2 separate regions of the Homo sapiens genome follow, and region 1 is linked to region 2. Evidence: fine-mapped expression QTL. A gene starts in region 2. The other region holds a variant in brackets. All regions are shown on one strand. Distances are between the middles of the regions.

Region 1 (4,526 bases), 22 kb after region 2:
GCTGGAGTACAGTGGTGCAATCTCAGCTTGTTGCAACCTCTGCCTCCCAGGTTCAAGTGATTCTCCCACCTCAGCCTCCCAAGTAGCTGGGACTACAGGCATGCACCACCACGCTGGGCTAATTTCTGTATTTTGGTAGAGATGGGGTTTTGCCTTGTTGCCCAGGCTGGTCTCGAACTCCTGGACTCAAGCAATCTGCCTGCCTCGGCCTCACAAAGTACTGGGATTACAGGCGTCAGCCACCATGCCCAGCCATCTTTTGCAGTTTAAATATTTGAAGCCAGTATGGAATATTTTGATTCATCTCTTATCTCAGGGCTGTGGTACTGGTTGGTGACATTTTTAAGTGGTAGTTATCAAGTTCACATATTCGTGACTCAGATTTCTCGTCTTGAAGCCAGACCTTCTACTGTTGCTGATGGTTTTGAGGTCAAGTGAAAGATAATACCAGGAGGATACCTTTATCAGGTGTGCATAAAAGAGGAGTATTTACTCTTTTTCTTTCTTCTTTCCTTTCTTTCTTCCTTTCTTTCTTTCTTGACAGAGTCTTGCTCTGTCTCCCAGACTGGAGTGCAATGGCACGATCTTGCAACCTCCACCTCCCGGGGTCAAGCAATTCTCCTGCCTCAGCCTCCCAAGTGGCTGGGATTACAGGTGCACGCCATCACACCCGGCTAATTTTCTTATTTTTAGTAGAGACAGAGTTTTGCCGTGTTGGCCAGGTGGGTCTCGAACTCCTGACCTCAAGTGATCTGCCTGCCTCTGCCTCCCAAAAGTGCTTGGATTATAGGCGTGAGCCACCGTGCCCAGCCAAGTATTTACTCTTTATATGCCCTGTTCTGTATGAAATGAACAGGGTTACATTGGGATAAATTTCTTGATTCACTAAAGCCGCTGTGCTCTTCCTAGTGGTTGCTTTGAGTGAGACAGAGGCTTCACACTTTTAAAAAGATATTCCTGAGTGCAGTGGCCCACACCTGTAATCTTAGCACTTTGGGAGGCTGAGGTGGGCGGATTGCCTGAGCTCAGGAGTTCAAGACCACCCTGGGCAACATGGTGAAACTCCATCTCCACTAAAATACAAAAAATTAACCCCTTCTCCACTAAAATACAAAAAATTAGATGGGCGTGGTGGCACACACCTGTAGTCCCAGCTACTCAGGAGGCTGAGGCAGGAGAATTGCTTGAACCCGGGAAGCAGAGGTTGCAGTGAGCCAAGATGGTGCCACTGCACTCCAGCCTGGGCGACAGAGTGAGACTCTATCTCCAAAAAAAAAAAAAAAAAAAAAATGTTGGAGATCATCACATATTAAAGAGAATTTGAGACACTGTTTTTTTCTAAATGATAAATTGCCTCTTGAGCACAGAGCAAACTTTTGTGAAGGTAAAATGGTACCATGCATTGTCTTAAGATGCACTCCTTTATGGTCTTGACTCTGATGCCTTTGTTTCTAGGAAGACCTAAGAGGTTGGAACAAAGAACATGGTAGGATAACAAAATATTTTTTGTAGCCTCTGTAGTTCATCCAGCCAAACGTATGTCTATTACTGAATATGAATAGATTGTACTTAATACTTGCCTCTAGCAGCAGCAGTTTTTAATCTTTTAAAAATTGGATTATACATTCATATAGTACAAAATTCAAAAGTTGTTAACAGTCAGAAGTCTTCCTCTCACTCAGCCATGCCAGTTTCTCATTTTGGAGACAACTAGTATTAACAGAGTTTTTTGTGTATCCTTCTAAGGGGGATGGTCTGTGATATACAGATGAATAAAAAACATGTATACAGTGTGTCTATTTTTCCCCCTTTTATGCAAAGCAGTAAAACTAGACACGTCTTCCAATTGCATTTTTCATTTAATTATTTTGGAGATAAGAATCTCCTTATTTGAAACTGCAGAGATATGACATCTAAATGCGCAATACCTTACCCTAGACTGGATCCTCTACTAATGTAGTGTAGAAAAAACAACTCAAACTGTTTGTTTTTTCTATTTTCTCATTCAACAGCAACAATGAACACAGAAGACTTCTGTGATCAAGTGTGTTTAGATTTTTCCGCACACATCAAGCGGTCACACCTAGCTGGTGTCCTCCAATTCAATTCAATTCTGATGCTATCTACCTGGGAATAGCCTCAGATTCTACAGGTTGAGAGTTCAGTCCCCCAAGACTGATTCTTCCTTCCCACCAGTCATAAGTCCAGACTTTCAGAACTTCTTACTGACCTCAAGTTTGGCCTCCCACGACCCCCTCTGGGGTGTTCAATTAATCTGCTAGAGCACCTCACAGAACTCAGGGAAACTTACTTGACATTTATCAGTTTGTTACAGAGGACATTTTAAAGGATGCAAATAAGCAGCCAGATGAAGAGATACATAGGGCAAGGTCTGGGAGGGTCTTGAGCACAGGAGCTTCTGTCCCCAGGGAGCTGGGGTACGCCACCCTCCTGGAAAATAGATGAGACCTTGTTCATCTTCCTGTAAGCCTGCATGTGTTCAGCTGTCCAGAAGCTTCCCAGACCCTGTCCTCTTGAGCCTTTTATGGAGACTTCATTGGATAGGCATGATTGACAGGCATGCAGAAATGTGACTGGGCAAGGGTATGACCTAATACTGATAGGCTGAGTGGGGAAACACAGCAAGGCCTGTCCAAATTCTTGGCCTCTCTGTGCAGCATTAATCTTCCTCCAGGATATGGTGCAGGACCCCTTTTGGAGATCCTGCCTTGGGCTGGTGAAAGGAGGGCAGGAGAAGGTCAAAGAGAGGTTCTTTTTTCTAAGGGCTGCTCCTGAGGCCTAAAGTGCCCCAACATTATGTATAATAAGGGATATGGGAGTTATGAGCTAGGAACCATGGATGAAAACCGGTATGTATGTATATCATAATATCACAACTACTATTAAAAATATTATTAGGTCAACTGACGAAATTGACATATGGTTGACAGATCGGATACAATTATTGT[A/G]TCATTGTTAGCCTGGCATGATGGCACATGGCTGTAGTCCTTCCTACTCAGGAGGCTGAGGCAGGAGGATCACTTGAGACCAGGAGTTCAAGGTTATAGTGAACTGTGATTGTGTCTCTGAATAGCCACTGCACTCCAGCCTGGGCAACATAGCAAGATCTGTCTCTTAAACAACAACAACAGGCTGGGTGCGGTGGCTCACGCCTGTAATCCCAACACTTCGGGAGGCCGAGGCAGGCAGATCACCTGAGGTCAGGAGTTCAAGACCAGCCTGGCCAGCATGGTAAAACTCTGACTCTAGTAAAAATACAAAAATGAACCGGGCGTGGTGGCAGGTGCCTGAAATCCCAGCTACGCAGGAGGCTGAGACAGGAGAATCACTTGAACCCGGGAGGCAGAGGTTGCAGTGAGCCGAGATCACGCCATTGCACTCCAGCCTGGGCAAGAAGAGTGAAACTCTATCTCAAAACAACAACAACAAAAAGCTAAAAAAACTATCAGTGTAAATTTGTGAAGTTAATAATGGTACTGTGATTGATTATGTAAGAGAATATCCCTAATCTTATAAAATAAGCACTGAAGTATTTAGGGGTAAAGTGCCGTGTTGTATATAATCTGCTTCTTAATGGTTCAGGGAAAAAAAATCAAATGTATAACATACATATATAATGTTTAGAGAGAGAGAAACACAAGTGCAAATTATAAAACAAATGAGGTAAATATTAACAATAGGTGAATCTGGAAAAGGGTATATATGTCTTCCTTGTATAATTTTAATTTTTTTAAGCTTGAAAATACTTACAAATAGAAAGTTTTTTCAGTTGTTTGTTTTCTCACCATTGCCTACTATTCATTCGGGTGGATATGCCTTTATTTTTTATTTTTTATTTTTTTGAGACAGAGTCTCACTCTGTTGCCCAGGCTGGAGTGCAGTGGCACCATCTCGGCTCACTGCAAGCTCCGCCTCCTGAGTTCACGTCATTCTCCCACCTCAGCCTCCTGAGTAGGCGCCCGTCACCACACCCGGCTAATTTTGTTTTTGTATTTTTAGTAGAGGTGGGGTTTCACCATGTTAGCCAGGATGGTCTCGATCTTCTGACCTCGTGATCTACCCGCCTTGGCCTCCCAAAGTGCTGGGATTACAGGCGTGAGCCACCACGCCCGTGAATATGCCTTTATTTGAGCAGCCCCCTATTGGCAGACATGTTTCTAAACTTTTGCCATTACAAACAATTCTTCAGTGAATAACTTAGCAGATTGTTTTGCACAGGTGAGAATTTATCTGTAGGATAGAGTCTGTTGAAGAATTGCTGTATCAAAGGGTATCGCCTTTTAAATGTTGATAGCTATAGCAGTAGCACCTTTAAAAAAACGTTGTTGATGGCTAATCATTAGACCTTGGAGAAAGGGAGTTCTGATTTCTACCTTTCTTTTTTCTTTTCTTTTCTTTTTTATTTTTTGAGACAGAGTTTCACTCTTGTTGCCCAGGCTGGAGTGCAGTGGGACAATCTCGGCTCACCACAGCCTCTGCCTCGTGGTTCAAGCGATTCTCCTGCC
Region 2 (4,000 bases):
CTTCCCTGACCACCCTATCAAAAGTGGGTTTCTGGCCAGGTACGGTGGCTCATACCTGTAATCCCAGCACTTTGGGAGGCCGAGGCAGGTGGATCAGTTGGGGTCAGGAGTTCGAGACCAGCCTGGCCAACATGGTGAAACCCCGTCTCTACTAAAAATACTAAAATTAGCTGGGTGTGGTAATCCCAGCTACTCGGGAGGCTGAGGAAGGAGAATCACTTGAACCCAGGAGGCGGAGATTGCAGTGAGCCAAGATCGCACCACTGCACTCCAGCCTGTGTGATAGAGTGAGACTCTGTCTCAAAAAAAAAAAAAAAAAAAAAAAAAAAGTGGGTCTCCTTCCTCACTGTTATTCTCCTTAACAGCAAACAATCTGCCTCCATCAGTGTGCACTTACCACATTTGGCATGTGTTTACTCATTTGTCATCTGCCTCCCATGATTACCAGCATCGGGATGGCAGGGACATTGTGTCATTTAACACTATTTACCCAAGTGCCAGGCATAAGGCTGGCACACAGTAGGCATTTTAAAATGCTTGTTGGCCAGACACGATGGCTCACACCTATAATCCCAGCACTTTGGGAGGCCAAAGCGGAAGGACTGCTTGAGGCTAGGAGTTCAAGATCAGCCTTGGTAACATAGCGAGGCCTCGTCTCTATAAAATTAAGAAAAAAAAGTTTGTTGAATAAATAAATAGTGTTCAGTCCTTTAAAAACATTCCACTGTGATTTTGGTTGGGGTTGCAGGCTAAGGGGAGGTTATGAAGCATCTTCAAAGCTAGGAAAAACATAAGTTAAAAAAAAAGAAAAGAAAAAGAAAAAGAACAGTGAATTCCTGGCAGACAGTGAGCAAAGCAGTAACATGAAGTAAATGGTGACAGGGTTGGATTGGGGGAAGATCCTGTAATTTGGAAGGCTATGATTTCTCCCCCTTAACTAGTCAGAAAACAAACAATGGCAAGTGAAGTAAATTGACGCTGAAAGTCAACATTTGCTATTATAAAATAAGAACTTCTTGAAGACAACCGTGAATCCATCCTGCTCTTTCAGTAGCATTTCTCTTCTTTCCTCTCTTACCTTGGTGTCTTGGGGTTGGAGTATAAATACTTGCAACCTCTTCGGAGTCGTTAATCTCTAGACGCTCATCATATGTCTGGTTTTCAACAACCTTGGTCTAAGCAAAGGGAGACATAATTCATAGCTCCTATCATGAGACATAAAGCACTCTGCCAGGAGGTATATTCCAAACCAGCATTGGCTCCTCTTCCTTACTCAAGAAACCAGTTTTTCACAAAACCATCACCCCATCCAAACTTTCCTTCAGGCTTCCTGGCCCTCGGTCAAGCAGTTAAGTCATTCTGTTGCAGCCCTTATTTAGGAACTGCTGGCAGGCTGGCTGAGGAACCAGGGAATCGTGGAGGGAAAGAGAGCCAACTTCTGCAGCTTCCCAAAGCTGTACGACCACGCGCAAGGGCAGAACACTATTTGTATGTAGATGGCCAAGGCTGTTGAGGTTTCTCAGGGAAGGCTGTAGAGGTTCTAGAAAGAGTTCTGTCTCTGGAGTCACCTCTGGGGTGGGGTGGGGTGGGGTGGGGTGGGGTGGGGTGGGGTGGGCTGAGGCGGGGTAGGGTGGGAGGGTCCCCGAAGAGAGGGGAAACTCCAGTCTCTCAGTCCCATCCGATAATCCCAAAATCATCACCTCCACTTTCACCCTTATCTTGCAGATAGGATCCCACCTAAGTTTCTTGGGGGAATAAAGGAAGCAGGACGGTTGGTGGTGAGGTGACGAAGGAACAGTTACCACGGAGATTGGAAGAGGTAACCGGGAATGGGGTAAAGGGGAGTCCTCTTAAGCCTCTCTAGAAAGACAGTTCCCTTTTTGCTGGGATGAGTACTAATTACCTGTAGCCCTTCTGAATCCGTCTCCTCTATAATGGAAAGAACCCCAGCCTAGGGCTGGGGTCTCACTCCAGTCTCAAAGCCAGGCCACTTTAGGATTCCACGCCAAGCAACCAGCCTGTTGTCAGTCGCTAGGCAAAAAGATAAATTTTAAAATTCGCGAGAGTTGCTTCCACTCTCGTGAGACCTCCTGCGCGTTAAGCCTCACCCGCGAAGGCTCTCCACGCAGGAAGAAGATCAAGGAGTCACGGATAAAGCCTCTCTGGGCGGCCAAGTCGCCTGTTTGTCTATGGTTTCAGTAAATACGTCTGTTGCGGCATCTAGCGGCTATGGGTGGCAACGCGGCTGATAAATTTCGGGCTGGTGTAGAGTTAGCCCTTCAATCTGGAAACAAGGTGTGCGTTTGTTCCCCTAGGACAACAATCTCTGGGGATGCAGTTGCTCCCAGATCAGTCTTACCAGGATGTAGACACATTCCAGGGGAAATTTCGCAGCACTCTGTAAGTCCTTTTCTAGCACTATATTACACTATAGTCTTTCCCCTCCACAGGGTGCCATGGAATGGAACATACTTATAGCAATAAATTATTCCTTGGGTATCTGAGGTTCAAATTTAACTCTGTGGGCCGGGCGCGGTGGCTCACGCCTGTAATCCCAGCACTTTGGGAGGCCAAGGCGGGCGGATCACGAGGTCAGGAGATCGAGACCATCCTGGCTAACACGGTGAAACCCCGTCTCTACTAAAAAATTCAAAAAATTAGCCGGGCGTGGTGGCGGACGCCTGTAGTCCCAGCTACTCGAGAGGCTGAGGCAGGAGAATGGCATGAACCCAGGAGGCGGAGCTTGCAGGGAGCCGAGATCGCACCACTGCACTCCAGCCTGGGCAACAAAGCGAGACTCCGTCTCAAAAAAAATTTTTTTTCACTCTGTGTCCTGTCTTTCTTATTTGCTAAAGTAGACTTTTAACTTATTTAAAGCAAGACCTGTGTCTAATTAATTTTTAAGCTTTGTAACACCAGTGTATTGCAGAAATTAGACACTAACAATGCTCATTGGGTGGATGAATCGAGGAATGAGTGAATGGAGATGTAAGGAACAAATATTTTCAAACTGTGGACATAATTAATTTGGGAAGTCAGGGAGAGAGAAACATAAAATATTGGAGGCCAGGTGCGGTGGCTCACACCTGTAATCCCAGCACTTCAGGAGGTAGAGGTGGGACGATTGCTTGAGTTCAGGAGTTTGAGACCAGCTAGAGCAACATAGCAAGAACCGCCCCCCTCCACTCTATTAAAAATAAAAAAAAAATTTTTTTTAATTAGCCAGGTGTGGTGGCACGCACCTATAGTGCTAGCCACTCGGGAGGCTGAGGCGGGGGGATTGCTTGAGCCAGGGAGGCAGAGGTTGCAGTGAACCGAGATTGGGCCACTGCATTCACTCCAGCCTGGGCAACAGATCAAGACCCCATCTCAAATATAAATAATGAATAATAACAATAATAATTTTTTGGTCGGGCACGGTGGCTCACGCCTGTAATCCCAGCACTTTGGGAGGCCAAGGTGGGTGGATCACAAGGTCAGGAGTTCAAGACCAGCCTGACCAACATGGTGAAACCCCCGTCTCTACTAAAAATACAAAAATTAGCTAGGCATGGTGGCGCGCGCCTGTAATCCCAGCCACTCAGGAGGCTGCGGCAGGAGAATTGCTTGAACCCGGGAGGTGGAGGTTGTGGTGAGCCGAGATCGCACCACTGCACTCCAGCCTGGGCGACAGGGCGAGACTCCGTCTCAAAATAATAATAATAGCAATACATTTTAAAAAGAAAATAATATTGGAAATTTGACCCTGAAAACCTACCAGAGGTAAACAAGGAAAGTGCCTTTAAAAAATGAGAGACAGCTTTTCTGGCATACTGATAGTTAAAAATAGAACTGCATTTAAAAAAAAATTTGTGATCTGTTTTGCTCGTAATAGTGGATATGTAATGTGCAGTACTTACTATGTAGGAGCACTTAGTTTTTTTGTGGGGAGCACTTAGATTATATCATCTAATTTACTTCACAACCTTATGAGATAGATGTTACTGCCAATCTACAGATT

The links.
Region 1: its variant is fine-mapped to the expression of IFT46 in aorta (GTEx, PIP above 0.99). The same link has a PIP of 0.9 or more in atrial appendage, esophagus muscle, stomach and tibial artery.

Annotation. Positions count from the first base shown.
Region 1 is chr11:118,585,585-118,590,110 of GRCh38, forward strand. All of the region lies in intron 5 of ARCN1 (archain 1 coat protein complex I subunit delta), which reads left to right. Among named protein-coding and RNA genes, the nearest start is that of ARCN1, 15 kb to the left of the region's middle. The variant A/G (reference allele first, on the strand shown) is at 2,970.
Region 2 is chr11:118,563,887-118,567,886 of GRCh38, forward strand. It overlaps IFT46 (intraflagellar transport 46), which reads right to left and starts at 2,045. Exons shown (of 12, transcript NM_001168618.2): 1 at 1,904-2,045; 2 at 1,079-1,175. It overlaps LOC124902764 (a long non-coding RNA gene), which reads left to right and starts at 1,175. Exons shown (of 4, transcript XR_007062907.1): 1 at 1,175-1,488; 2 at 1,726-1,819; 3 at 2,316-2,400. RefSeq lists an enhancer at 2,088-2,317.